Linked DNA regions of Homo sapiens. The protein of the gene in region 4 purifies or fractionates together with the protein of the main gene of each other region. This does not show direct contact. Each region holds a gene or a part of one and is shown on either strand. Other genes may lie near its edges.

The links.
Region 1: the proteins of CLEC2D (region 4) and ATP7B purify together in Homo sapiens (affinity purification with mass spectrometry; 2 studies listed by BioGRID and IntAct, with this or other methods). This does not show direct contact.
Region 2: the proteins of CLEC2D (region 4) and DIPK1A purify together in Homo sapiens (co-immunoprecipitation; 3 studies listed by BioGRID and IntAct, with this or other methods). This does not show direct contact.
Region 3: the proteins of CLEC2D (region 4) and NXPE3 purify together in Homo sapiens (affinity purification with mass spectrometry; 2 studies listed by BioGRID and IntAct, with this or other methods). This does not show direct contact.
Region 5: the proteins of CLEC2D (region 4) and GPR50 purify together in Homo sapiens (affinity purification with mass spectrometry; 2 studies listed by BioGRID and IntAct, with this or other methods). This does not show direct contact.
Region 6: the proteins of CLEC2D (region 4) and DNAJC1 purify together in Homo sapiens (co-immunoprecipitation; 3 studies listed by BioGRID and IntAct, with this or other methods). This does not show direct contact.
Region 7: the proteins of CLEC2D (region 4) and ABCB8 purify together in Homo sapiens (affinity purification with mass spectrometry; 2 studies listed by BioGRID and IntAct, with this or other methods). This does not show direct contact.

Annotation. Positions count from the first base shown.
Region 1 is NC_000013.11:51,934,754-51,938,521, reverse strand, and holds part of ATP7B (copper-transporting ATPase 2), read left to right. Parts: intron 1-842; coding exon 843-1,046; intron 1,047-1,128; coding exon 1,129-1,246; intron 1,247-2,826; coding exon 2,827-2,929; intron 2,930-3,492; coding exon 3,493-3,766; 3' UTR 3,767-3,768. UniProt on the Homo sapiens protein: Copper ion transmembrane transporter involved in the export of copper out of the cells. It is involved in copper homeostasis in the liver, where it ensures the efflux of copper from hepatocytes into the bile in response to copper overload.
Region 2 is NC_000001.11:92,950,950-92,955,076, reverse strand, and holds part of DIPK1A (divergent protein kinase domain 1A), read left to right. Parts: intron 1-4,127.
Region 3 is NC_000003.12:101,799,532-101,803,658, reverse strand, and holds part of NXPE3 (NXPE family member 3 isoform 1 precursor), read right to left. Parts: intron 2,425-4,127; coding exon 1,670-2,424; intron 1-1,669.
Region 4 is NC_000012.12:9,696,883-9,700,680, reverse strand, and holds the end of CLEC2D (C-type lectin domain family 2 member D), read right to left. Parts: 3' UTR 1,128-3,798; downstream 1-1,127. UniProt on the Homo sapiens protein: Receptor for KLRB1 that protects target cells against natural killer cell-mediated lysis. Inhibits osteoclast formation. Inhibits bone resorption. Modulates the release of interferon-gamma. Binds high molecular weight sulfated glycosaminoglycans.
Region 5 is NC_000023.11:151,174,941-151,179,509, reverse strand, and holds the start of GPR50 (melatonin-related receptor), read right to left. Parts: upstream 2,927-4,569; 5' UTR 2,789-2,926; coding exon 2,602-2,788; intron 2,134-2,601; exon of another isoform or gene 1,674-2,133; intron 1-1,673. UniProt on the Homo sapiens protein: G protein-coupled receptor that plays a role in numerous physiological processes including regulation of energy metabolism, neurite outgrowth or cell migration.
Region 6 is NC_000010.11:21,993,368-21,997,494, reverse strand, and holds part of DNAJC1 (dnaJ homolog subfamily C member 1 precursor), read left to right. Parts: intron 1-4,127. UniProt on the Homo sapiens protein: May modulate protein synthesis.
Region 7 is NC_000007.14:151,026,742-151,031,639, forward strand, and holds the start of ABCB8 (mitochondrial potassium channel ATP-binding subunit), read left to right. Parts: upstream 1-1,708; 5' UTR 1,709-1,725; coding exon of another isoform or gene 1,726-1,774; coding exon 1,775-1,869; intron 1,870-4,499; coding exon of another isoform or gene 4,500-4,550; intron 4,551-4,898. UniProt on the Homo sapiens protein: ATP-binding subunit of the mitochondrial ATP-gated potassium channel (mitoK(ATP)). Together with pore-forming subunit CCDC51/MITOK of the mitoK(ATP) channel, mediates ATP-dependent potassium currents across the mitochondrial inner membrane.

The DNA.
Region 1 (3,768 bases), on a different chromosome or scaffold from region 4:
TCTGAAAGCTTAATTGTGTTCCTTGAGGGAAGCAGCAGTACCCCTGTTTTCCATGGTCCTCCTTGCTAATTATGGACCTGTTTAGCGTCCTTCCCCCCTTTTCTGGCTAGCACTTGTTCATCTATTCAGCAGGCACTTACGAAGCACCACGAATGTGACAGGCAGGTGTGGGGCCAGGCTCTGTGAGGAGTGAAGGGGGGTCTGCCCTTGACGGGCTCATGGTCTTGCAGGAAGGTGGACCAGTGACTGTGTAGATCTGAGAAGCGGGAAAGGGACTAGGAAAGGAAAACTGCACCTTCCCAGGACAGAGCAGGCAGCAGGAGCATTTCCCAGGGGCACAGAGTAGCACGGCGGTTTGGAGATGCCGCGGGGAGCTGAATGGTATGGTCAAGTGTGGCACCAGCTGCCAGACCCTGGGACCCTGGGACTCTGGGACCCTCGGAAGCAGACCCAAGAGTTGAGCTGCCCTCCTCTGGGAGATGCATGGGGTCTACTGGATGTGAAGCAGGAGAGTAGGGAGGGACATGGCCGGACGGATGCTTTGGAAAGACCATGGGGGCAGCACATGGAGAAGACAGTTGGAGGACTGAGCCGTGGACAGGGAGACCAGCAAGGGGGTTGTTTGCACATCCAGAAAAGGACAGGGCCTAAACCAGTGCAGGGTGTTGGGGCAGGAGCCAGGGATAAACTGGCCCTGTGACAGCAAACCTGCAGGGTGTGGTTGACCAACATCACTGACTGGACCCAGAGGCCGAGGGCAGAGGGGGCAAGGGTAACTTGAGGTTTCTGCTGCTATCTGATACCTTTTGCCAACACTAGGCATTGCCTTCCTTTTGTCTTAGGTTGGCATCAACAAAGTCTTTGCAGAGGTGCTGCCTTCGCACAAGGTGGCCAAGGTCCAGGAGCTCCAGAATAAAGGGAAGAAAGTCGCCATGGTGGGGGATGGGGTCAATGACTCCCCGGCCTTGGCCCAGGCAGACATGGGTGTGGCCATTGGCACCGGCACGGATGTGGCCATCGAGGCAGCCGACGTCGTCCTTATCAGAGTGAGCGTGGCTGCAGCCAGGCTGTGGGTGCTGGGAGGGCAATGGGCAGACCCCTTCCTCACTGTGTGCTCCTCTCCATCAGAATGATTTGCTGGATGTGGTGGCTAGCATTCACCTTTCCAAGAGGACTGTCCGAAGGATACGCATCAACCTGGTCCTGGCACTGATTTATAACCTGGTTGGGATACCCATTGCAGCAGGTAGGCAGCTCTTACCCACTGTGCTCCAGCTGCGCCCAGAAAGGCTTCTGTCTCCCAGGTTCCTGCTGGGGTTAGTGAGTGGCTCACTCACTGGCTGGCTAGAGGCGTTTTAGAAAGGCTGTTTTTTTTTTTTTTTCATGTCCCCTGCTTTATATGTCTTTAAATGAGAAACTGTGGAGAGGACCTGAAACCTTCATTCACTCTGGTCCTTTCTAAAAAGCTAGTGGAGATGCTTGGCTGTATTTTCTGATCCCTATTTTATTGTGGCCTTATTTTCTGAGCCATTTGTTAAGTCATATAGTCTGAGAAATAATCATTAGTAAGAATTATGGGGCATCTGCTACATGCTAGGCACAATTATTGGTGTTTCAGAACCTTATCCTGAACATTAATCCTGCCCAAGTTTCACTCTGAGTTACACAAATGATCATGGAAAGAAATGGCTCTTTGACCAGGCATGGTGGCTCATGCCTGTAATTCCAGCACTTTGGGAGGCTGAGGCAGGAGGGTCATTTGAGCTCAGGGGTTCAAGACTCACCTGGGCAACATGGTGAGACTCCATCTCTACAAAAAATTTTAAAGTTAGCTGGGCGTGGTAGCGTACACCTTAGTCCCATCTGGGAGTACAGAGGCTGGGGCAGAAGGATTTATTGAGCCCAGGAGTTGGAGGTGGCAGTGACCCATGATCGCACCACTGTACTGTAGCCTGGGCAAGAGTGAAACCCTATCTCAGAAAAAAAGAAAAAGAAAAGAAATAGATTTTTCTGCTTTGTAATTCCCCCTCATTCCCCCTCCTTAAGAACCATCTCTCCCCCGCCCCCTGCTCCCTGCCCCCTGCCCCCAGGAACATGGCAATGAAAAGTTCCAGAGTGCTCCTCCATGGGCTGAGGAGAGATCAAGTTTGTAATCACAGCATTCCTGCCTCAGTCTCCCTTGTGTCTGAGTGGTTAGTGGTGACTTGTGTAACAGGGCCTTGGCTTCCTGAGCCCAGTGAGTCAGGCAGGTTTACTTCTTGTCCCCAGAGCCGGCTCAGGAGCTTAATTCCCCCAGTGTATGTGCCTCTGCCACACAAAGTTGACCATACCTGTCTCCTGACCCTGTCCTGGGACCTGGCTCTCATTCCTCTTCTAAAGATGTCATGAAGCCCTGGAGGCGAGATCATCTGCTAGAGAAGGACTGTGGCCCTCAGCCGTGTTTGTCCTCTGTGGGACTGTGGCTACAGGATGGGCAACTGGCTCCCTCAGCTCCTGCCGCTTTTCTCCTCCCGCTCCTCCCACTCCTTGTGGTTTGTCGCTGCCCTGGAGCTCGCCCTGAAATGGGATGCCACCTGTGGGTGGTTCTGGGAACATCAGGGCGAGTGGAAGAGAGCCAGGCCCACTCAACAGCATCCCACACCCAGCTTTCTAGGAAGCCTCACTTTGGGGGGGGCCTGTGGGCAAGATCCATTGGCAGGGGCTTCTGAGCACGCCAGGTGGAGACCTCACTGGGGGCCGCTGAGGGTGGGGCAGCCCGGTGCCTGAAGCCCTCTCCTGGCTCCTCTCCCCAGACCTAGGTGTGAGTGCGAGTTCTTTCTTCCCCAGGTGTCTTCATGCCCATCGGCATTGTGCTGCAGCCCTGGATGGGCTCAGCGGCCATGGCAGCCTCCTCTGTGTCTGTGGTGCTCTCATCCCTGCAGCTCAAGTGGTGAGTCCCCTCAGGTGGAGCATCTGTGGGAGGCTCCCAGGAGGCCTTGTCATTCTGCATGCTTAGCACAGTGGAACTTGCCTCTCATTTCCCATTCATTCACCTGGGACAAATGCTGCAGTGGCAGCCCACATGGAGCCTGGTGTGCATGCATGTAACTTATCAGCACCATGAGCAGGCAATTCACTGCTGCCCATTCACGTGCTGGGCTGCCCTTACTCTGCTCCTCAAGGGCTGTTTATGTGAACATCAAGCAGACATGGGTCCCTGTGTATGATCTATCACTTTTTTATTTAAAAAAGATGTTCACTTATTTATGAGTGCATTCATTTAACAAAAGTTAGTGGCAGCCTACAATGTGCAAGGCATTTGCTTAGGAAGTTTCTAAATCAGGTGAGCTTTCCTGGAACCATAGGGAGTTTAATGTCCTTTTCCTTGGAAACTCTTGAGGTTTTGATACTGAATGTTATTAAAAGATGGATGAGAGGCCTTCACCAGGCTTAGAAAAAAAAAAAGCCTTGTTTCTAGAATGGCTCAGATGCTGTTGCGTTCCTGCTTTCCAGCTATAAGAAGCCTGACCTGGAGAGGTATGAGGCACAGGCGCATGGCCACATGAAGCCCCTGACGGCATCCCAGGTCAGTGTGCACATAGGCATGGATGACAGGTGGCGGGACTCCCCCAGGGCCACACCATGGGACCAGGTCAGCTATGTCAGCCAGGTGTCGCTGTCCTCCCTGACGTCCGACAAGCCATCTCGGCACAGCGCTGCAGCAGACGATGATGGGGACAAGTGGTCTCTGCTCCTGAATGGCAGGGATGAGGAGCAGTACATCTGATG
Region 2 (4,127 bases), on a different chromosome or scaffold from region 4:
GCTTCTTTCACTTAGTAATATGCATTTACGTCTCCTCTATGGCTTTTCATGGCTTAATAGCTCATTTCTTTTTAACGCTGAATAATATTTCGTTGTCTGGGTGTACCACAGTTTATCCATTCACTTACTGAAGGGCATCTTAGTTGCTTCCAGTATTTGGCAATTATGAATAAGGCTGCTACATAAACATCTGTGTGCAGGTTTTTTTGTGGAGTGCCCCAGTTTTTCATCTTGATGGATTATAGTATTATTTTTTATTCTCCATGAAAGTTTTCTTTTTTTGTAGCAGTTAGGTACATTTTATTGTTTTTATTTTTAAAAGTTGTTTCTAAAAGCAACACTATATCATCCTGTTAAATACCATCATTTTACATTGTCTGATTGAAGAGGTAAGGTGTTGTCGGCTGGGCACGGAGGCTCACGTCTGTAATCCCAGCACTTTGAGAGGCTGAGGCAGGTGGATCACTTGAGGTCAGGAGTTTGAGACCAGTCTGGCCAATGTGGCGAAACCCTGTCTCTACTAAAAGTACAAAAAATAGCCGGGTATGGTGGCATGTGCCTGTAGTCCCAGCTACTTGGGAGGCTGAGGTGGGAGAGCTTGAACCCGGGAGTTGGAGGTTGCAGTGAGCCAAGATCACGCCACTGCACTCCAGTCTGGGTGACAGAGTGAGACTCTGTCTCAAAACAAAAAAAAAAAAAAAAAAAAGAAAGAAAAGATAAAGTGTTAATATTTTTAACATATCCATTTCTTTTATTTATTTATTTATTTTTTTTTTTGTGAGACAGGGTCTTGCTTTGTTGCCCAGGCTGGTCTCAAACTCCTGGGTTCAAGTGCACCTTCCCACCTTGGACTTCCAAAATGCTAGGATTATATGTATGAGCTACTATGTCTGGCCATATTCATTTCTAGATGTTCAAATCATTTGCAAATAATTTTCCTTTAAAACTTTTTAATCTACGAAGTATGCGAGTTTAGAAAACCAGGATATTGCAATGTGCATGTTTTAATAACCCAAAATATTAGTAAATGAATTTATCTTTGAAAATAAGCAATTCCTTTTTTGTTGTTGATTGGGTATTTAATGAAATTAAATAGTTATCTTTCTTAGGTGTGATCATGGAATGGTGGTTATTTTTTTCTGTTTCATTTTTTGTTTTTTTAAATTATGGTCAAAAGCACATAAAATTTGCTATCTTAACCATTTTTAAGCATATAGTATAGTAGTATTAACTATTTTATGCACTTTGTGCAGCAACAAAGATCTGTGCAGCAGATCTCTAGAACTTCTTCATCCTGCAAAGTCGAAACTCTACCCATTGAACGACTCCTCATTTCCTCCTGCCCCTGGCCCTTGGTGACCACATTCTGCTTTCTGTTTCCATTAGACTGCTTTATACTTCATATAAGTGGAATCACACAGCATTTGTCTTTTTGTGACTGCCTTATTTCACTTAACATAATGTCACCCATGTAGATTATGACAGGATTTCCTTCTTTTTTAAAGGTGAATAGTATTCCATTGTATGTATATTCCACATTTCCTTTATCCATTCATTAGTCGATGAACATTTAGGTTGCCTCTACCTCTTGGCTATTGTGAATTGTACTACAATGAACATGGGAGTGCAAATATCTCTTTGAGATCTTGCTTTCAATTTTTTTGTATATCCAGAAGTGGGATTGTTGGATCACATGGTAATTCTATTTTTAATTTTTTTAGCAACCTTCATACTGTTTTCCAAAGTGGCTTTACCCTTTTACATTCCCACCAACAATACACAAGGGTTTCAATTTTTCCACATCCCCGTCTGCACTTCTTTTCTTTTTTTTTTTTTAAGAGTGACCATTCTCACGGGCGTGAGCTGATACCTTGTTTTAGTTTTTATTCACTTTCCTGATGATTAGTGGTGTTGAACATCTTTTCATATGCTTTTTGGCCATTTGTATATCTTCTTTGGAGAAAGTTCCTTCTTGATTTGTTGTTTCAGATTGATATTTATTCAACAGGGTTATGTGTTATTGTGAGCAGAGTTCCCCTTTCTTAAGAACAGGGTAAACATGTTTGAAGATATTCTTCCAAGAGAGATTTTAATGTATTAACAAGCTTCTGAATTAGTACATCCATTTCAGATGTAGCATAGTATCAGAGTCATAGACTATTATTAGATCTTAGAGCTAGTGCCACAAGTTTTACTCCCTGTCCCCCACTGCTTGAAAATTGGGACTCCTTATTTATTTTAAATCTAGAATGTTGATCAGGCTGCCATCCTATGTACCTTTCATTGGATCCTGTATTTTTTTTTAAAAAAAAGCCATAAAGGATTTTTTTTAGATTACGGGGAAATTTGAAAATGGATTACATATTGGATAGTAGTATTGTATCAATGTTAAATTGTGCTGTATGGGATAGTGTTCTGGTTTTCAGAAAATATAAACTGTAGTGTTTTTTTCAGGCAAAGTCTTGCTTTGTTACCCAGGCTGGAGTGCAGTGGCGTCATCATGGCTCAATGGTTCACTGCAACCTAGCCTTCCTGGCTCAAGCGATCTCCCACCTCAGCCTCCCAAATAGCTGGGCCCACAGGCCTGTGCCACCACACCTGGCTAGTTTTTGTATTTTTTGTAGAGACCAGGTTTCACCATGTTGCCCAGGCTGGTCTCGAACTCCTGGGCTCAAGCAGTCGGCCCACCTTGGCCTCCCAAAGTCCTGGCATTACAGGCGTGAGCCACTATGCCCAGCCAAAACTAAAGCCTTTAGGGTAAAAAGTATCATAATGTCTGTAATTTACTTACAAATGGTTCAGGAAAAAAATGTTTGTATATACATATACAGAAAGCAGGGTTTCTTAATCTCAGCATTATTGATATTTTGGGCTGGATAATTGTGTGGGACTTGGTGTTGCAGGATGTTTAGCAGCATCCATGGGCTCTACCCGTTAGATATCAGTAGCATTCCCCCAGTAGTGACTATCAGATATGTCTCCAGACATTTGTGTGTGTTTTTTTTTTTTTTAAAGAGTGGCCATTCTCATGGGTGTGAGTTGGTATTTCATTGTAGTTTTAATTTCATTTTCCTGATGATAAGTTGTCCTCTGGGGGGCAAAATCATCTACAGTTTAGAATGCCTGATACAGAGAAGGAGAGGGTGGGGGGCGGGGGAGTATTTATGTATATTTAGGAAGAGTGAAAAGGCAAATAAATTAGAACAATGTTAGCAGTTGATAAATATAGGTAGGTATAGGGTATAAGAGTATTCATTGTATTAGTCTTTTAAATTTTCTGTAGGTTTAAACATTTTCAAAATTAGTTTGGGGAAAGTAAATTAGACTGGATTTTATAGTAATTGAGTATGACTGGAAATGTATGAACTCTGTTCAAAGTTACATCTCTTAATAGAAAAATGAGATTTGACAGAGCATATTTGAAGTCAGTGATTAAATAAAGAGTATTAGTTTTCCAGTGCTCCTGTAACGAATTACCACAAATTTAGTGGCTTAAAACAACGCCCATTTGTTTGTACCCTGATCTCAGAGTTTTGTTAACTTAGAAGTCAGGGCACAGTGTGACTCAGCTGTTTCTCTGCTCCAAGTTTCACAAGGTTGAAATCAGTGTCACCAGGGCTGAGTTTCTTTCTAGAGTTTTGGGAATGATTCGGCTTCCAGATTCTTTCCAGTTGTCAGAATTCAGTTACATGTGGTTGCAGGACTGAGTCTCCATTTCCTTGCTGGCTGCTGGCTGAGGATTGTTCTCAGCCTCTAGAGGCCACCTGCATTTCATGGTTCATGGTTCATGGTTCATGTTTCCCTTTCTCCAACTTCAAAGCCAGCAACTATGGGTGGAGTCCTTTGTTTCACATCTCTCTGCCTCCCTCTTCTGCCTCATCTTACTAACTCCTCTGCCTTCCTCTTCTGCTTTTAAGAGCTCGTATGATTGCGTTGGATCCACTCAGATAATCCAGGATAATCTCTATTTTAAAGTCATCTGAGTAGTAACCTTAGTTCCACTTGCAAAGTCCCTCCTTCACAGCAGTACTTGGATTAGTATTTGAAATAACCAGAGGGTGGAAATGTTGGTGGATATCTATAGAATTCTGCCTCCACAGGAAGATATAATTGAATTCTAATAGTAA
Region 3 (4,127 bases), on a different chromosome or scaffold from region 4:
GACAAAGTGAGACCCTGTTGCAAAACAAACAAACAAACCAACCCTCTAAAATAGGGTAATTGAGTAGTCTTCATATATAGGCAAAAAAGTACACAGAAATAAAATAATCTGCTCAGTCACTAATAAATAGCATGTCTGAAACCTGAACCCACGAATAAAATGAAAAATTTTGTTTTGGTTTTGTTTTGAGGAGTTGTGAAATTTAATTTTGTTTTCATTTTGTACTGAGCCATAGAAAATACTAGTCTTCTCAGCAGTACAGTAAACACTGTACATTGAGTAGTGCTCCCTCTGCTGGCCTTCTAAAAGTATGGCATGAACCCACTACATATGTACATAATCTGGTATGACCAAAAGCTGACTTCAGGGTGGAAAACTGAAGAGTTTTATTTTAGGAGCTCCTACAAACCACATACTTTATGGTAGCAACTTTTCTCCCATACGGTAATGAGTGGACATAAAGTATGAAATTTTTAGGGTGCCCAGATATCCTTAACAAAAATACCTCCCTTTTATCCAACAAAAAAATTCTCTCTACCAAGGAATGTTTAAAAACAATATATTTCACTAAAAAGTAAAAAACATGTATACATTCTTTCAAACAATTGTACTTTTTGTTGAGACAGGGTCTCACTCTGTTGTCCAGGCTGTAGTGCAATTGTGATCACAGCTCACTGCAACCTCAAACTCCTGGGCTCCAGCCTTCCTCCCACCTCAGCCTCCCAAAGTGCTGGGACTACAGTCATGAGCCACCACGCTTGGCCAGCATGGTACTTTTTAACCATGTAGCTTTTATAATTTTTTATTTCTTAGTGATGTTATGGAATGTTGAAGAAAACACAAATTTTAATTCATACTGGTTCCATATTCCTTTCTGCACATTATTCCATGTATTTCTCATCATGCTGAAAATATTTTAAGCTTACATTTGAAATAGAAATTTGAACACAATACTGCAATAATTTCAACAACTATTTAGCTTAAAAAATATAGTTTTCTGTGGTATTCCTGACTTCCTATGCTTATTAAGTCAACCCAGCAATGTTGCCATATTCATAGTTTTTTAATCAGTAGGTTCAAATGATTTTAAAAACTGTTATTATGTTACTTTTTAAAGTTTCAGTTCATTAGATACAAAGATAAAACACCAGCCTGACTACCAGCCCTACCAGCCCTGTTCTTGGATTATTTTTTTCTTTACATAAAATAGATGGGGTCTTGCTATGTTGCCCAGGCTGGTCTCAAACTCCTGGGCTCAAGCGATCCTCCCGTTTCAGCCTCCCAAAGTGCTGGGATTACAAGCATGAGTCACCACATCTGACCCTTAGATAACTTCTATCTGTTCTGTGAATAAGGGATTTTACTTACACAGCTACTGTGTAAACATGCTATGTGGTTCTAAAGGAAAACACAGATATGAGGGTAAAGAACAAAAATTCAAGGGTAAAAGGTCTTTAATTTGGACTCAGATAAGCATTAAGCTTCATTTTTAAAACACTAATGAAAAATACAAATCTATGTTTTTTTTTTTATTCACTACCTCTTCTGTATTGGGCCAAGTTGAGAGAGAGGTAAGAAACACATACCGAATACCAGAAAGTCTCCTAAATGGGACAAGGACAGTGGAAAAGAACTCTTCAAATCATCCCCAAGAAAAAGCAGTACATACCTCTGGAAGAAAGCACTCTCTGCAGCGGTTAGGAGACCTTTCAGGTATCCACCTTTGAAATGGGTAATTCTGCTGCTGCAAGGGAGCTTCTTTGGTTTGAAGCAGAACCAGGGCTCCCCAGTGTAGAGGTCTGTAAAGTTACACAGGGGCAGATTCCCAGGAAGACACACGTTGCACTCAGTAGTTTCAGAAATTCTTCCTGAACGGAAGAGACTCTTGAAATAGACCCTGTCTGGTTTATCTTCCTGTAAGCGCTGAAGAACTCTGATCCCTTCACTGGGGTGGACCAGAGATACGGATACTTTAACTTTGCCTGGCCATAGCAAAGTAAAGAAAACCTTGTAAAACCCATTCTGGTAATCCACCACCCTGCCCACAGCCCCAGCCTGCAGCTTGAGGGAGTGAATTCTGGCCTGCAGGTAGTCTCCACCATACTTCTTGGGCTTTCTTTGAAAATCCTGCACATGAACCAGCACCTCAAGCTGGCTTCCCACCTTAAAGAAGGCAGCAGAGTTCAAGATGACAAAGTAGCTGGAAGAAGGGTCAGTGCTCTTCACAAAGGGGACTGGGCCCACATCAGGAACCTGCCGGTGCAAGGCAGCCAGCAAGGAGTCCTCCTCCATGCGCTCCTGGCTGGACAGGGTCTGCTGATCATAGCCACAGTAGGGATTTCGGCTAATTCCTGTCACCTGGGAGGAAACAAACTGTCCACTGCTGTCGATGAAAGTGGCTGAAACAGTCTCATGGTCCAAGTACTGAAGAAGAAGACACAAACAACAGAAATTACCACTATAATAGGTCTCTGTATTTTGGCATAAATTCAGAGGGCTCCCCACACTTCTGTGAGTTTTAGCTCCAGGAGCTCAATCAGATTCTCACAGTGAATATCAAAGAAAAATCCCCTTGGGCTTCCGGGAAGAGAAAGGGAAAAGGACCCATTTTGAAGTATGCAGAGCACTGTGTTGTTCTTAACAAAGCTGCCCCTCAAGAGAAACCACTTTATCAGAACCTAGCCTATTGGAGTTTTATCAGAGCCTAACCAACTTGAGAGAAGGGAAATATCCAACTCCAGCCCACTCGAGCCACCCAGTCCAACCTAAGATGGAGAAACACCAAGAAAAAAGTAAAGGAATGGAGAAAGATATACCATGCTAACACTAATCCAAAGAAACCAGTAGTAGTTATATTAATTTCAGACAGAGCAGATTTCAAAGCAAGGAAGGTTAGCAAAGATAAAGAGGGTCATTACATAATAATAAAGGAGTCAATTCTCCAAAAAAAAAAACAACCCTTAACATGTATGTACCTAACCAATGAGTATCAAAACATGTGAGGCAAAAACTAATGGAGAAATAGATGAATCTACATTATAGTCTGAAACTTCAACAATCCTCTATCAGAAATACACAGATCCAGCAGGCAGAAAATCGGTAAGGACATAGTTGAATTCAACAGCACCATCAATAAACTGGATATAGTTGACATCTGTAAACTACTTCATATCAAGCTCACATGGAACATTCACCAAAACGGACCACATTTTGGGCCATAAAATACACCTTAAAAATTTTTTAAAATAAAAATCATACAGTGTCTTCTCTTAAGCCATAATGAAATTAAACTAGAAATCAATAATAGAAAGAGAGCTGGAAAAATCCCAAAATGGTATACAAATGGGTAACATACAAAATCTCATGAGAAATTTAAAAATATGTTAACTAGGTGAAGGTGAAAATATAATTCATTAAACACTATAGAATGAAGCAAGAGAAGTGCTTAGAGGGAAATTCATAGTACTATACATATTTTAGGAAAGAAAAACAACCTAAAATCAGTAATTTAACCTTACATCTTAGCAAACTAGAAAAAGAAGAGCAAACAATATCCAAAATAAGCAGAAGAAAAATAATAAACATGATAGCAGAAATCAATGAACTTGAAAACAGGAAATCAATAAAGAAAAATCAATGAAACCCAAAGCTGGTTTTTTAAAAGATTGATAAAATTGATAAGCCCTCTACCCAGGCTAAGAAAAAAAGAGGGAGGACACAAATTATTAATATCAGAAATGAAAGAGAAGCCATCACTACAGATCCCATGGACATTAAAGGAATAAAGGAATATTATGAACAATTCTATGCCCATAAATTTGATAACCCAGATGAAATGGACCAATTCCTTGAAGGATACAATCCATAAAGAATGCACCTAATGATGCAAAAGTAATATTATAACTAGTGGAAATCAAATATAAAAGAATGAAGTAGGCCAGATGCGGTGGCTCACACCTGTAATCCCAGCACTTTGGGAGGCCGAGGCAGATGGATCACAAGGTCAGGAGTTCAAGACCAGCCTGGCCAACATGCTGAAACCCCATCTCTACTAAAAATACAAAAATTAGCTGAGTGTGGTGGCAGGCGCCTGTAATCCCAACTACTCGGAAGGCTGAGGGAGAGAA
Region 4 (3,798 bases):
TAGGTTCAAAGGCAATAGATCTTTTGTCTTCTTAGGTGAATCTGATGGCAAGAGTTTGAAATATGCAGTTTGGGCATTATACCGAACCTCATAAAAGTCAGATAAGGCTTTCTTGTTAGATGTGTTGCAGGAGCACTTGCAGTTTGCTCCTGCTTTTTGTCATTTGGAAAAAACAACCTAATTTTAAAACTGTCAAGTGAAGTGTGATGGCTAATTTTATATGTCAACTTGATTGAGATAAGGTATACTCAGCAGGGAAAGCATTATCTCTGGATGTGTCTATGAGGGCCAGTGTGACAGAGCTCATATTTTATAAAAATATGTTTTTTCTGTGATCTGATATTTCATGCAAATGAATCAACATTATTTTAACAAAGCTGTATTTTAGTTCTATTCTCTTTTGTTTGCAGAAAACTGATAAGAGAAGTACAATCATATTGGGCTTTAGATCTTAGCCTCCTGCCAAGGAAATTATGGAATCTTTGTGAATTGTGGTTGGTTACATAGTTTCTAAGCCAGAGATTGTTTCCTCTTCTTACCTATGTAGGAAGTACAAGCTTCCTAGTATTCTCTTCTGCAAGCTAGAGAACCAGGAAAGCCAGTGTTGTAATCTAGTCTGAGTCGAAAGCCTTAGAACCAGGAAATGTCTTCCTGACCAATACATGAAGTATTATTAAAATATGCCTAAATAAAACAAAGCATAATTCTCAGTGTAAGGCCAAAGGTCTGGGAAACTGGGGAACTCCAATGTCTGAGAGTAGAAAGAAATGGATGCCCTAGCTTTAGAAGAGAATAAATTTACCCTACCTGACTTTTTGCTCTGTTTGGGTAAGACCTGCACGGATTGGATGATGCCTGCCAACATTGGTGAAGGTAGATCATCTTTACACAGCTTAGTGATTCCAACATCAATCTCTTTCAGAAAAGCCCTCATAGACACATCCAGAGATAATGCTTTCCCTGCTGAGTATACCTTATCTCAGTCAAGTTGACATATAAAATTAGCCATCACACTTCACTTGACAGTTTTAAAGTGTTTTCAAAATGACTATTACTTAAAACAGAAAGCCAATCATCTTTTACATAATTGAGACCCACCCTGAAGAATAAGAGATAGCTGTAATATATTTACAGTTCACTGCCTTTCAAAGTGTTTATTCAGAATTATACTAGAAGTAATTTCATGAAAATAATATTGTGCAACCTTTTCATTCTATTTCAATGAAAAGCAGGCATGAACATTACTCAAGCTTGAAATTTTACTGAAAAGTAAACATTTCAATTAAGCTTAAGGAAAAAAGAAATTTCCTGAGATTTCCAGTGTATACAGAAGTGTCTTTCCATTAAGAATAATTAAAAGTTAAAAAATATGCTGATAACTTGCCACAATTGACAGAATGCAGATTAATAGGATAAATGGCAAACAAATCTATAAAAATGCATGCAGAGAATCAGAGTGATCACCCCACCAAGCAATGGGGTATAGATGGTGATATACCCTTGTCCTTAGGGGAGAGGGAGATGGGGAAGTGTGGGTGATTTTGGGGGAAGAGTAAATAATTTGGGGAGAACTTAATGGGGTGAAGATCACATAAATGGCCTGGGACAAAGTCTACTGGGCTTGCAGAGAAGACAATGGTTTGTGAGAAAAATCTATCCAGGTGGGTTAAGAGACTTCATTCTTTTTCCTACAATATGACTTCAGTTAATGAAAACCCATGGAAGGCACCAGAATTAACTGTTTTCTTATTTGGTGAGTCTGAACTTAAAGCAGATAAAGGAACTTCAGAGAACTTCCTCCTGTGCTCTGGGAAAACAGAGGATTAAGAAACAGAGGTTGAGGAGGAGGTCAGAGAGACCTCGAGTCTTCTTTAGTTCCACCTGTCAAATCACTATATGTTAGGGTATCCGTTTCTGAGCCCCAACAATAGTTTGGAAATATATTCTCCCAATCTGTAAGTTGTCTCTTTACTCCATTAATTATTTCCTTTGCTGTGCAGAAACATTTTTTATTTTATGCAATTTCATTTGTTTATTTTCACTGTGGTTGCATCTACTTTTGAGGTCAAATCCAAAAATTATTGCCCAGACCAACGTTGTGAAGCTTTCTCCCTATATTTTCTTTTAGTAGTTTTACAGTTTAAGTCTTTAATCGATTTTCAGTTGGTTTTTATATATGGTAGGAGGTAAGGGTCCAATTTTATTCTTCTGCATGTGGATATACAATTTTCCCACCACCATTCATTGAAGACTATTTTTTCCCCATTGTGTATTCAACATTTAGGGACTGGGGCTGGGGAATAGAGAGATGTTCCCCACATGTCACAGGGTAGTAGGTTTCAGTTAAGAGGAATAAGCTTTTGAGATCTATTGCACAGCATAGTGACTATAGTTAATAATAGTGTATTGGATCTTTCAAAATTGTCAAGAGAATAAATTTCAAATGTTCTCACCACAGAAAATGATAAGTATGTGAGATGATGAAATGTTAGTTTGATTTAATCATTCCATAGTGTACACATATATCAGAACATCACATTGTATTCCATAATTATACAGTTGTCAGCTAAAAATTTAAAAAATAAAAATATCCTTTAAAAATGCAAATAGCAACTGCAGATAGAAATTTATCATGTATCTCCCAATGTGCTTTTTTATTGTATATATTTGATGTGTATAATGTGATGTTTTTATGTACATACACTTAATCTAATTAACATAAGCTTCATCTCACATACTTACATTTCTTTTTGTCTGTGTGGTAAGAATATCTAAAATCTGTCATCAAGTTTTCAGTACACAGTGCAATACTATTATAGTCCTCATACTGTATGTTAGATATCTAGACATACTCACCCTTTGTAACTGCAACTCTGTATCTTTTGACCTGTGTCTCTGTATTTTCCTCATCTCTGGTAACCACCATTCTACTCTATTTCTATGTATTTGGGTTTTTTTTTTAAGTTTCACTATAAGTGAGATCATGCAACATTTTTTTTCTGTGTCTGGCTTATTTCACTTAGTATATATAATAAACCCTATAGGTTTATTTACATTGTTTCAAATAACAGTGCTGAGACCAGCTCAGTCGGGTAGATCCTAACCCAGCAGCGCCAGAGGAACTAAAGACACACACACAGAAATATAGAGGTGTGAAGTGGGAAATCAGGGGTCTCACAGCCTTCAGAGCTGAGAGCCCAGAACAGAGATTTACCCATGTATTTATTAACAGCAAGCCAGTCATTAGCATTGTTTCTATAGATATTAAATTAACTAAAAGTATCCCTTATGGGAAATGAAGGGATGGGCCGAATTAAAGGAATAGATTGGGCTAGTTAACTGCAGCAGGAACATGTCCTTAAGGCACAGATCGCTCATGCTATTGTTTGTAGCTTAAGAACGCCTTTAAGTGGTTTTCCACCCTGGGCAGGCCAGGTGTTCCTTGCCCTCATTCCCATAAACCCACAACCTTCCAGCGTGGGTGTTATGGCCATCACTAACATGTCACAGTGCTGCAGAGATTTTGTTTATGGCCAGTTTTGGGGTGAGTTTATGGCCAGATTTTGGGGGGCTTGTTCCCAACATAACAGGATTTCTTTTTACAAGGCTGAATAATATTCTATTTTTTATATATATATATATATGTATGTATGTATATAATGTGTGTGTTTTATATATATGACAATTTCTTTATCCATTCATCTGTTAATGGTCACTTCAGTTAGTTCCGTATCTTGGCTATTATGAATAAAGATGTGTTATAATAAACAGGAAAGCAGATATCTTTATGAGGTGGTG
Region 5 (4,569 bases), on a different chromosome or scaffold from region 4:
GTTTCCTTCACTGGAGGTGAGGGGGAGGGAGAAGGAGGAGGGGAGTAGAGGTGAGCTAGAGGGACTTGTTTTTAGGAAGGAGGCTGGAGAGTGGGGGGCAAGGAGAGACACTGGAGGGATGTCAGGAAGCCTCAAACTAAAAAAATTAAAAATAATTAAATAATTAGAAAAAGATAAATTAGCCATCTCCCTCCTATAGCCTAGCATTGCATTTATAATAAACACATTACTAGAGAGAAGATTCTGAGAAAAGGCATTAGAGGCCATCTTCTTAAACAGTCTTTTCCGATGGGATCAAGCAGTAACCTAAAACCTTGCCAAGTCAAATACTTACCGTTCCGAGGTAACCTAAGAGTGAAAACTGAGGGGAAGCAGGGAAGCCCTGTAAAATTTAGTCTGAGACCAAAGAAGTAGTGAGAGGGCGGGCGGGAAGGGTGGCGCGAGGTGGGCGGGGGTGGGGGGGAGGAGAAAAAATCCTGCAAGGATTAGCAGAAGTGCCTGTTTCAGTTACATGCCGCGTCCACGTCCACGCGCAGAGCCGCGCACTGGCACATTCAGCGCCCTGCACAGAGCTCCCAGCGCCGGGCACTGAACTTTACTGGAGCCTTCAGGTTAAACAGGATAGAGAAGAAGGGTCACCCCCACTCCGGTCTTGTAGGGCTGAGGTGGGAACTTTTTTGTAAAACCTTTCACAAAAAAGAGAAGGAAGAGGCCAGGTGCAGGCGCAGAGCCCTCTTTCTTTGGAGACACCTCGTTGCTAATTAGCATTGGTTTGGCAAAATATTGCACTTCATCTTGGACTAGGAGAAAATGAGCGCTTTTGAAAAGGGCAAAGGTATGGCTCCTTCTTCCTCCTTCCTCCAGCGCTGTCAGCACTCGGCCTCAGCACTTTCTACCGAAGAGGTTCTTTCTATGGTTTTCCGGCAGAGTAATGAATTCAGGGAAATACAGCCGAAAAGAGAAGGGGCAAAGCCTTAAAAACAAAACCACAACAACCATAAAAGCCTTTATTTGAATTATAGAAGGAAGGAAGGAGAAGGAGAAAAAGAAAGAAAAGAAATCTAAAGGGAATAAAATGGGCTTCGCAGGTCGCCCCCAGGATTCCGTGGGTTTGCACCTCGGGACCGCACCGCGGGGGTGAAGGTGAAGACCTAGTGTATGGCCCCACGATTCCAGGAGACGAAGGAGAAATCGGAGACACCCACCAGACTTTGTAAGAAAACTTTTAATGACTGTGTGCCAGTCAGTGCGTTTTTAAACTTGTTCAGTGTTCGTGACTCCTTGCCCAAGCAAAGTAATCCCCCAGACCCCGGCCGCCACCTCTCCCCCACGCCCTGCCCGGGAGAATCCAGCTGGTCTCCCCACCCTCTCAGACCCCCTTCGGTCCCCACTCCTAGCCCCAGCCGATCGAGAATCTGGCGGTGGAAATTCCAGGCGCCGCCCCTCCCTCCCCCGGCCTGAACTCGGAGTTTGGGCGCCTTTGCCCCTTCCCCTCCCTTCCAGAGCCCTCTCCCGCCCAACCTGTAAGCCGGACTAGCTGCTCTGCAGTGTCTGCCGCCCCCACCCCCAGCACAGGTCGCAGCGCCCGGCATCCTCCCACGCTTCCCTCCTGCCCTGCTCGCCGCCGGCCCCCGGCCCCCGGCCTCCTCCCGCTCGGCAGTGGCTAGCAGCGGGGGAAGTCCCGCCTGCGGCTCCCAGACCCCAGCCCTTTGCAGCCTCTCTGAGTCCCCCATCGCCGCCTCTGAGCTCTCCCGTCGCCCTCCCGCCAATCCCTACTCGGTTTTGCTGCCTTCTATCCCTCCACCCCCAGCAACGCCCAGCTCCCAAGCCTCTTGGCCGGCCCGCCCTGCGACCCCCCAGTTCCCCGCTTACGGACCTTGGGATCTCCGCTGCCGCCGCCGTCGCTGCCACCGCCTGCTGTGCCCGACCCGCCGCTTGCCTCTCTCTGCCGTTCGCCCTGGGACGGGCGGACGGAGCTCGGCTCCGGCGGGCTCAGACCTCCCTGCTCGATTCTCGGGCGCGGGGGTCTGTGCTCCGCCGCCCGGGATCTGCCCGGGAGCCGTCCTGGAGCCCCAGGGCCGCGGCGAGCGGGCTCTTGGCCCGGCTAGGGAGAGGCCACTGCGTTGCGCTCTGGTAAGGGCCGCCGCGGCCGCCGCGAACTTAACTTTCACAGAGCAGGTCGCAGCCCCGCTGCTCCCTCCGCGTCAGTTCGGTCCGCGCTGCCTCAGCGCGGCCGCCCTTGCGGCGTCCGGCTCGGCTTGCTGTCCCCGGGCGAATCGCCTGACTCTCCCGCTCGGGTGCCGGCTCCCTCCGCATCAGGCCCCGACGGGACAGGGATCCTCGGGCTGCCGCGCACCACGGGAACGCTTTGTACTTGGATGCCCAAAGCTAATTCTCTGTGCTCTCTCGGCCTTGAGAACCTCCACGTTTAGAGGGCCGGGACAGAATACTACCACCCCCAGGCTTGCGGGGAATTTGGGAGCAGGGATGTTCAATATGAGGGCACTGTCCATAGATTCTCTATTCGGGGAGCTCAAAAACTAACGCCCTAGGGGTTGCAAGTCTCTGCACACTGGGTAGGGAGAAGAAGGGGTGGCTTACCAGAATTCCGGAGCTTCTTGTTCTTCGTCACAGCCAAAATGACCATGGAGTTGCCGATTAGGTCTACAACGATGGTGATAACCATCGCGCAGAACATAAAGATGATTAGAGCCGGTGGGTATTCTGGCTGGGGTAGCTTACAGCCAATACAGCCATAGGGGGTGGGAACCGCTAGGGTGGGCCCCATGTTGCTCCTGGGGATCGTTAAGATCTCCCAGCAGGCTCAGGATCAGCAGCCAGGTCCAGACAGCAAACACCTGTTCTGTCACCAGGAGCTCCAGGAAAGCGTGCCTCCCTCTCTGAGAGTCAGAGAGCAAATGACAGCATCCCGCCCCTCTCCGATGAGCTTTTAAAGCCTCAAGAGGCGGCTAGCCCCACCCCAAATCCCTCCCCCCGACCAATCAGACCTCCCTGAATACCCCCCCCTTGGCTACCCCCTCTTATTGGACAAATCCACATTGAGGTGTCATCTTGCTTCCGACTGCCTTGTATGTACTTCCTCTCTAGCCAGCCTGCCCTGCCTCTCAATCTCCCAGGTACCTTGCAAGCATCATGACTAGCTCGGAGTCCACCCCACACCCCCTCCACCAGCCCCTGTGCATTCGTTTCTAGCAAGTTCTTCTCCCTCTCTCCTCCAGTGCAAACACCTGGCAAAGAGATGTAGATTGCAGAGCCGGAGCACAGAGTCTTTCATAGGATCCAGTGCTAGACCAAGCCAGTCCACAGCCCCCAGCAGGGTATAGGGGATAGCCGGTGGCCCCTTGAACGCTAGATGCTTGCCTCTGCAAGTATCCTTGTGAGGTCCATCCCACGCCCCATGCCCTTGCCTGTCTAGAGCCTTCTGTGTCCCGCGGGGAACAGGGGACTACTGCTGGGAGCTCCCACCCCCAATCTGGGTCCCTAATCCCTAGGGAACTTAACCCCGCTCCCTTTCTCGCCAGGAGCCTCTTGGCTCCCTTAGCGGCAGCTGCGAGTAGCCGCTCAGTCCGGTCCAGGTCTTGCACTCTCCATAAAGAGATGTACCCTGCGCCCGACTCTGGAAGTGGGGAGCGGGTCTGCACCCTGGGACCTAGGGAAGGCATTGGTGGCCACTCGGTCCTCAGTTTGGGGGCGAACGGGAGCGGGAGCTCGTCTCCTTTCCAGCTGCCGGCAGCCAGGCGGCGGAAGCCAAGGGACGCTTTGGGAAAAAGTAAAACAGGCAATAAAGCTCTTCTCTTGGGTCCCCGCTTCTCAAGGAAACTCAGGACGAGAGGCTCTGACGCCTCTCCCTCTCGGGATGCTCGGCATTCTCTACTGAGCGGCACGGGGCAGTCAGGAAGGCTGAAGGAGCTGCGCCGCAGCCGCGGGAAAGGTGCGGAGGTGTCACGCGGCTAAACCAAGAAGCCTCTGGCTGACCGGCGATCCCTGCCTCAGTCAGGATTCCTCTCGGTCTTTCTCCTTTCCCATGCCCTTCTGGGGTTCTCGTTTCGACCCCATCCCTCTCAGGCCTCCCCCCTCGCCCTCCACACCGCGGATCTCTGTCCCCGTGCGTCACAGTTCCCCTGCGGTGCGCCCAGGATCTCGCTCCGCGGGGACCACGGAAAATTCGAATATTCGGGCAAAACTAAAGGGGCGTGATTCGGACACTCGTTCCCTCAATAACCTTGGTCACGGGAATGGATTTCTGCCGGCTACTAAAAGTTACGGCTCCTGTCGAGAAGCCTTTCAAAATCTCAGTAAACACCTTGAAACTTGTTCCAGACTAGTCTTCTTGCCACAGTAGGGGAGAGGGGTTGCACTGGCCGGGAGCGCCATCGTCTGGACACAGCAGCCCTCTTGCCCCGGGGTGGGTGGGGGGACGGACAAGGCGGGGTAGGTAGTAGGGGCCTGTTACGCGACGAACTTCAACATTCAGATACCTTTAACGAAAAAAACAGACACTGTTGAAAACCAAGATTGCACACACTGTCTCTAGCTATAAAGCCTAAA
Region 6 (4,127 bases), on a different chromosome or scaffold from region 4:
GCTATGAGTAGTGGGAATCAGTCTCTTTGCACCTCTCTGCCCAGACCAGTAAGGCAATTATCCTAACCAGACTTACCCTTGAGCATACTGTCTCAAAGTCTAGAATGTAGAGGAGAGGGCACAAATTGCTAGCAAGCCCATTTGGCCATCACATTTAACCTGTATTCTTCAATAGCTGTATCAGTTATAAAGGTTCATCTCTTGTCTGCCCGACTCCTGTGTCCACTCAGTTTTTTGGATGGGAAAAACCAGTTAATGGGGCCTCCCTAAAGCCCATCACAGTCCTTTTTAGAAATGAAGATGATGATTTCATTCATGAATGATGGTGAATTTGTACTGTGATTATCAATTTTGTCCAGTGATTCTTGCAGTGGAATCCACTGAGCTTGTGGTGTTGAGTGTAGTTCAGTCTTTCTCTGTGGAGTCTATTCCTTTGTACATGTGTGTTGTGTAATAATAGCTTCCCCATTTTTATTGTAGAATCCAATTTTTTTTAATTTGGAGAAAGAGATACACAGAATCTAGAATGGTAGATAACCTTTCAGTCATTTATATTTCTGATGTAGGCATGCATAGCGTTAGAGCTGAATAAGTACTTGTTTAATTGTATACATCTTTGCATCAGATAGAATTATCATAAAATTAGTTTTCTTATGTACACACTCTTTTTGTGATATGTATAGTTTAGTGGAAGATGCCTGAGCCAATTTTATGGGATAAAGCAAGTCTATTGTGAAAATTTTGCCACATATAATCTAGAGCTGATGGAACAGAGACTTTCTTTTAGTTTTAAGTTTCCTTTTTCCTTTTATGCTATTCTCAGTTTTTTCTTTACACTAATTATGAGAACACTCTTAGAATATTGTATCTTTTGTTATTCATAGACAATAGCCTAAGTTGAACTGGGAAAGTGGAATGGCTTCTGCTATTACAATTATTCCTAGAAATATATTCTAAAACGTTATATGGGTTACCAGTTTACCTAGTGATTGGTTTAATGTGGTTAATTTCACAATCATATTTTGTTCAATGTTGAGAATAAAACAGAGGTTGAGGTTATTTGACTTGATTGCTGAGAGGAGAATTTATATGGCAGTTGTAAGTAATGCCAATAAAAGTTGTTTGATAAAATGCCTAGTGTCTGTAATAAACCTTTTCTCAGCTTTGTTATGCTCTCTCTCAGTGAACTGCTTATTCCATAAATGGTACTATGTGACTTTCAGAACTGTTTTCCACTGTGGGCATTATTGGGTCTGTTTAGACAGTAATGATACCAGTTAATTCCACCTAGTTGAAAACAATTCCAAAGCCTTTCTTACAGAGTTATACAAAAATAAAGGAAAGGAATTGCAGTGGAAAGAGAGATTTCTGATTGGATGAAGCAGGACCCTAGATCATTTTATAATGAAGTCACAGTCATATTTTCAAAAATCTTTATTTTCATCAAAACACTTAATTGTAAAAGATGGGCCCTATACTAATGAATGTAAAAATATGATTACATGTTTTAAATAACAGCATAGTATTTCATTTTAAGAACTGAATAGTTGATATTTGAGTATTACTTATATTTACTGAAATTTTTTGTCTAAGCGTGTCATAAGGACCTAATTAGAAATTTAATCTAGAATTTATGTTTCATTTCCCATCTTATGTAATACTAAATTAAGCAAGGTGAGGATTCATTCACCATATTTGATAAGTGTTTCTGATTACATCATCCAGCAACTGAAATCTCACATGTAACCAGGCATATTGCAAAAGCAAGGGCATGCCACGTTCTACATTTTTGTTAGAATATGTGTATAAAACAGTATACTTCATTATCAGATGGATGCCTGTTTTATTGCTACTGAGGCAGTAGGCATTAAGCTCTGTGCAGCTACACAGTTAACTAATATATTTGAGTTGCTTAATATTAAAGCTAATAATCTAAGATCAAGAATTAAAGGACATGCCATAGTATATGCAGCAGTGTTAAAATGGAGAAGAGCAACGTTAAGATGCCACTAAGAGCAAATACTAGAATTCTAAAATGACGTAATTTCCTTGGTTAAACACATTCTGGAATACATACAACTCCTGGTTATAGAAGGAAATAGAATTTTAAACTGTTACATGAAACTCAACTGTGGCCTGTATAGTGAGCAGTAGTCAAAATGAGTTATGACCAGAAAGAAAAAGATCATTGTTGCCATTTACTGGGAAAGTATGAATAGACCATGAAGAAATCTTAGGGTCCGTACACATGAGGAAGGTAGAAACTTCTTATTTCTAGTCAATACTTAAGGACTTTATTTATACCATTAAAACAGGTCAGGTTAAGGAATCTATTCCATGACCAACTGAATTTATACTTTAAAAAGAAACCTCTGACTTTTAGAAAATTTTTTTTAATTGCAAATCTTATTGGCAGTTATTTTCAATTACCACACTTTTCGTTAACAGATAAGATTACTATTTAGGTTCTTTTCTGACTTAAAGTGGTGCTTTGTATTGATAGTTGGTGATTAAGTTTGATTTGCGGAAGTTAACATGTATAAATATATATAATATATTAATATATAAGTATATATAATATAAATATATATAAAGTAGGAAGTCTGGAAATTGTGTTTTAATTATATCATACAATATTTCTTTATGGATCTTTTATATGTAGTAGGAAATAGACTTCTTGTGTGTTTTTTTGTTTGTTTGTTTTGAGACAGAGTCTCGCTTTGTCACCCAGGCTGGAGTGCAGTGGCGCGATCTCGGCTTACTGCAAGCTCTGCCTCCCGGATTCATGCCATTCTCCTGCCTCAGCCTCCCCAGTAGCTGGGACTACAGGCGCCCGCCACCATGCCTGTCTAATTTTTTTTTGTATTTTTAGTGGAGACGGGGTTTCACCGTGTTAGCCAGAATGGTCTTGATCTCCTGACCTCGTGATCCACCTGTCTCGGCCTCCCAAAGTGCTGGGATTACAGGTGTGAGCCACCGCGCCTGGCCAACTTCTTATGTTTAAAGCATTTTAGTTTAGACATTTGATAAAGTTCAAATGACAGCCATGTTGTGCAGTTCTATAGTAGTTTTACACAATCAATGAGTGACTTTTTATATCACACGTTTGGAAGTATATAAGATTTAACTTAAAGTAAATTAGATTGATTTTGCAAGTGTTTATTGTGGAAAGCTTCACAGTTTTTCAACATGCTGCTGTCTCTTAAAACATCACTGAAGCTTCTTGTTTTGAATTGCCTTCAAAGCTTGCTGCATATTCTTCACATTAGCCTCATTAGTAGTAAATCTTAAAGTTGGGTTTGATTTTTGGCTATAGCTAACAGTCATTTGGAGCTAAATTTGGTGACTAAATTAGGTTAGCAAGCTCGGATAAATACTTTGTATTGATAAAAAGATCTGAATATACATTTCATGTAATGCTGATAGACTGCCTTGAGGACTGTTCTCAAAGAAAAGTCCCAGAGAAGTTTTGAGTGATATTGACACAAAGTAATAAATCTGTAGCTTTACAAGGTAGTAGAAAGTATTAGAGCAAATGACTCTTGGACTACTTATTACTTCGTGGGTAGCAATTTTTTTAAAAAAAGTTTGCCCGCAGGATAAAAATGGGTAAAAAAAAAGTGATCTTAATTTTAGAGAAGTGGGAAAATATAGAGCTAGAAGAAAATATTTCAATTATCTGCCTGCTTTTAATATTAAAAACAAAGATCATGATAGTATTCATTATATATTTCTATAATAAAGCAAGTTAAAACCGAGTGGCAGAGGAATTAGAATAATGTTAGAGATAGAGGTAGTAGCTGAGAATACCACTGAGGAAGAAAGCAGGATACACATAGAAACGTATACAGAAAAAATGCATAAATACAAATATAAATGAAAATGGAGTAATATCTCCATCTTGTGGCCTTCTTTGGATATTGCTATTAAAAATGTTGAGGGGTTGTATTTTCACAACTGTAGGCATAAGTAAGAATAAAATATGAGACAGACGAAAACAAAATACGAGTCAGAGAGTTCTTGCAGTATTTTGCAGGGCCTTTTAAGACCGAGCTTCCCAATTGGTGTGCTGCAAGCATGCTGAGATAGTGATGCCCTGCCTTGAGCAGCCTTAACAGTTTCCTCCA
Region 7 (4,898 bases), on a different chromosome or scaffold from region 4:
AAACAGAGCCACTACCCAAGAAGCTGCAGCCCAGTGGGGAGACAAATACGCAAACAAGTAATTACAGGGAAGAAACGAGTGGTGCAAACTCTTTGGCAGGAGCCTGAGGCAAGTCATTCTGACCCGGGTGAGGAAGGTATCTGCGAGGCAGACAGATCTGAGGCCGCGCCTTGATAAATTACAGGCCCTCCATACCAATAGTTCTCAATGGCTGAGGCGTAGGGCAAGAGTGTCAGAATCACCGGGGGAGTTCTTCCCCAAGTACACGTGACTGTGGGGAAAAGAAAGAGAGATCAGATTGTTCCTGTGTCTGTGTAGAAAGAAGTAGACATAGGAGACTCCATTTTGTTCTGTACTAAGAAAAATTCTTCTGCCTTGAGATGCTGTTGATCTGTAACCCTACCCCCAACCCTGTGCTCCCTGAAACATGTGCTGTGTCAACTCAGGGTTAAATGGATTAAGGGCTGTGCACGGTGTGCTTTGTTAAACAAATTCTTGAAGGCAGCATGCTTCTTAAGAGTCATCACCACTCCCTAATCTCAAACCACTCCCTAATCTCAAGTACCCAGACACAAAACACTGAGGAAGGCTGCAGGGACCTCTGCCTAGGAAAGCTAGGTATTGTCCAAGGTTTCTCCCCATGTGATGAAATATGGCCTCGTGGGAAGGGAAAGACCTGACCGTCCCCCAGCCCGACACCCATAAAGGGTCTGTACTGAGGAGGATTAGTAAAAGAGGAAGGAATGCCTCTTTGCAGTTGAGATAAAAGAAAGGCTTCTGTCTCCTGCTCGTCCCTGGGCAATGGAAATGTCTCGGTGTAAAGCCTATCTCTACTGAGATAGGGGAAAACCGCCTTAGGGCTGGAGGTGGGACAGGCTGGCAGCAATACTGCTTCTTAAGGCATTGTGATGTTTATGTGTATGCACATCAAAAGCACAGCATTTTTTTTTTTACCTTGTTTACGATGCAGAGACGTTTGTTCACGTGTTTACCTTCTGACCTTCTCTCCACTATTATCCTATTATCCTGCCATACCCGATAATGATCAATAAATACTAAGGGAACTCAGAGGCTGGTGCCGGCGTGGATCTTCCGTAAACTGAACTCCGGTCTCCTGGGCCCATTTTTCTTTCTCTATACTTTGTCTCTCTGTCTCTTTCTTTTCCAAGTCTCTCCTTCCACCTAATGAGAAACGCCCACAGGTGTGGAGGGGCAACCCACCCCTTCACGTGACAGATGTCCCAGCAGTTCTGACGCACCTAGGAGAGCGGGGTGGGTGGCAGGGCATATGTACGTGTTTTGAAAAAACTCCCAGTCGATTTTTGTTCATTCCTCCCCCAAAACCCGCGTTCTACACGCCCTTGAGACGACGGGACATCTAGAGATCCTGGAGCCTTGGGAAAATGGCCCGAGGTCGGCGGCTGACGCGTTACTATGGATACTCCATAGCTTGGAGGGCCAGTCGGGCCACACCCTTTGGACGTCACCCGGAGCCCACAGGAGCACCTGGCAAAAGCCAGGCCCACTTCCTGCTCGGCTCCGCCCAGAGCAGGGGGCGGGCGGATAGGCGATTCCCTCCAATCACAGTTCCAAAAGGAGGGGGCTGACAACATATCCTCCAATCACAGCTTGAAGTGAGATTGATGTGTCTTTTCACCAATCACCGCCAAGGCGCGAGGGGGTTGTCGGGATGGGGGCGGGAGCCAACATAGAGCCCTCAGTGGGATGAGGGTGAAACTGCTATTGCCGGCGGCTCCTGTTTTACCGCGTCAGCATGCTGGTGCATTTATTTCGGGTCGGGATTCGGGGTGGCCCATTCCCAGGCAGGCTGCTACCGCCCCTCCGCTTCCAGACATTCTCAGCTGTCAGGTAAAAACGGAAAAACCTACTCAGAGCGGGCCATTGACCGCCCGGCAGGGCAGTGCCGGCCCGCCGGGAGATGGAGTCCACGAGCTTGCGCGAGGCTTGCTGGGAGCTGTAGGCCAGGCCTACCGGGGTGGAATGTCACTCCGCGGGTGTTGGCCTCAATTATTTATAGTGACACTCCAGTCGCCAGCAGGAGGCTCCTGCGTCTGCAGCCGCGTGTCAGCCAGAAGGAGGGGACGCTCGGGGTCAGTGACCACGCCCAGTCCGCACTCCCGACCGGGGGTCCCCTTTCCTGGCCCTGGAGGTGATTGCGCGATTTGGACGAAAATTCTTATTAGTATGAAGAGACATTTAATGTAGTGGTGCTTCCAGGATTCAAAGTGAGTCGAAGAAGAACTAGAGATGTTCAGCAGGGATAAAGAGCCAATCTAATAGGCCGGGCGCGGTGGCTCGCTCCTGTAATCCCAGCACTTTGGAAGGCCAGGAGTTCGAGACCAGCCTGGCCAACATGGCAAAACCTCGTCTCTACTAAAAAATACAAAAATTTGCCGTGATTGGTGGCACGCGCCTGTAATTCCAACTACTTGGAAGGCTGGGGCAGGAGAATCGCTTCAACCCGGGAGGCGGAGGTTGCAGTGAGCTGAGATCATGGCCACTGCACTCCAGCCCGGGTGATAGAGTGAGACTCTGCCTCAGAAAAAAAAAAAAAAGAGTCAATCTAGTAACTTGTACATGTGTGTTTTTCGCAAAACACTCTACACAGGTTGGTCGAGAGAGAGAGACAGACAGACAGACAGATGGGAAACAAACAAGGACCCTGAAACTACAACTCGAATGTAAATGCTTTATGAGAAGGGACTGATTCCTTTTTTTTTCTTTTCTTTTCTTTTCTTTTCTTTTCTTTTTTTTTTTTTTTTGAGACAGAGTCTCGCTCTGTCACCCAGGCTGGAGTGCAGTGGCATGGTCTCGACTGACTGCAACCTCTGCCTCCTGGGTTCAAGCAATTCTCATGCTTCAGCCACCCAAGTAGCTGGGATTACAGATGTGCACCACACCCGGCTAATGTTTGTATTTTTAGTAGAGACGGGGTTTCATCATATTGGTGGGCAGACTGGTCTTCAACTCCTGACCTCGGGTGATCTGCCTGCCTCGGCCTCCCAAAGTGCTGGGATTACAGGCATGAGCCACCTCACCTGGCCATCCTTTCTAATCCTAGAGTGAATTACTTGGGGGCCAAACAGATAGAAGATTCCCAAGGGCAGGTGGATGTGGAGTTGTGTCATTTGGAAAGCCCATCTGACTGATGGAGGGCAAGAGCTGGATCGAGCTGGAGCTGGAAGTCTTGGTACTGGGAAGTAATCCACATGCTCTTGGCAACGACCAAGACTTTCTTAGAGTCTTAGTTTGGAGACAATGCAAGAAGCTGGAAAAAGACCATGCTAAATTATTGAAAGGTTTAAAAACAGTTCTTAGGAAAGAGTAAGGGTGTTGATGTTATTTAAACCAGAGAGAAACCCAAGGAAAGACATAAAATAATATTCAAGTATATATGTGTTCATTAGTCAGTATTTTTCAATAGATTATGAAATGCATTTAGTTGGTCAGGACCATTTAAAAGTAAATATAGGCTGGGCACGGTGGCTCACGCCTGTAATCCCAGCACTTTGGGAGGCCAAGGCAGGCGATCACCTGAGGTCAGAAGTTTAAGACCAGCCTGGCCAACGTGGTGAAACCCCGTCTCTGCTAAAAATACAAAAATTAGCCAGGCGTGGTTGCACGCACCTGTAGTCCCAGCTACTCGGGAGGCTGAGGCAGGAGAATTGCTCAAACCTGGGAGGCAGAGGTTGCAGTGAGCCGAGATTGTGCCATTGCGCTCCAGCATGACAGAGCAAGACTCCGTCTCAAATAAATAAATAAAAGTAAATGTAGGCCAGGCACAGTGGCTCACACCTGTAATCCCAGCACTTTGGGGGGCCAAGGCAGGCAGATCACTTGAGGTCAGGAGTTCAAGACCAGCCCGGCCAACATGGTGAAACCCCATACAAAACTTAGCCGGGTGCGTTGGCTCACGCCTGTAATCCCAGCACTTTGAGGGGCCGGGGCAGGCAGATCACTTGAGGTCAGGAGTTCAAGACCAGCCTAGCCAACATGGTGAAGCCCTGTCTGTACTAAAAATACAAAAATTAACCAGGCATGGTGGTGGGCGCCTGTAGTCCCAGCTACTCGAGAGGCTGAGGCAGGAGAATCGCTTGAACCTGGGAGGTGGAGGTTGCAGTCAGCCAGCATAGCACCACTGCTCTCCAGCCGGGGCAAAAGAGTGAGACCCTGTCTTGAAAAGAAAAGAAAAGAATCAGAATACATGTTAAGAATTAGAGAAAATGTTATTTTGTGAAGCATTTCCATTTTGTGTGGCATGTATGTGTTCATTGTACTGGGTTGCAAGTAAGATATGTTTCTTGCTGTAGGCCACAGTAAGTCTAAACATTTGCAAAACCCTGTAGTAGTTAGGTCAGATTGTCCTGCACCTCTAATGAGGGCATGCATGTGCTCAACAAGCATAAACATTTGCGGAACATCTATTATGTACCGGAGTTCTGCCAGTGCTGTCTAAGATATAATTTCCTGCCTTTCAGAAACACATGGCGTAATGGGAAAACTGGACAGTTACACAAGGCAGAAGGAGAGTAAGCGTCTCTATCTTTCTAATAGAAACAAGAACACAGTGGAAAACAAGACATAAAAACCTGGCAGTTGGAATGGGGTGGGAGAAGGCCTCATGTAGGCAAAAGGCACAGGCCTTCCTGAAAGCAGGGGAAGGATGAGATGAAGACTGCAATTAGAAGGGTCTAGGGATGTGAAAGGCCATGATGGTAAAGAGAAAAGCTCACACTACTCTTTTTTTAAACCTTTCCCCATCAGTAAGCTTATCTAGATCTTCTAGATCTCACCATCCTCTCCTGGCTGGATAACTTCTGCTCCCTACAACCAGTCCTGTCTGCCTCCAGCCCATGCCCCTCTGCTATGATCTTTTT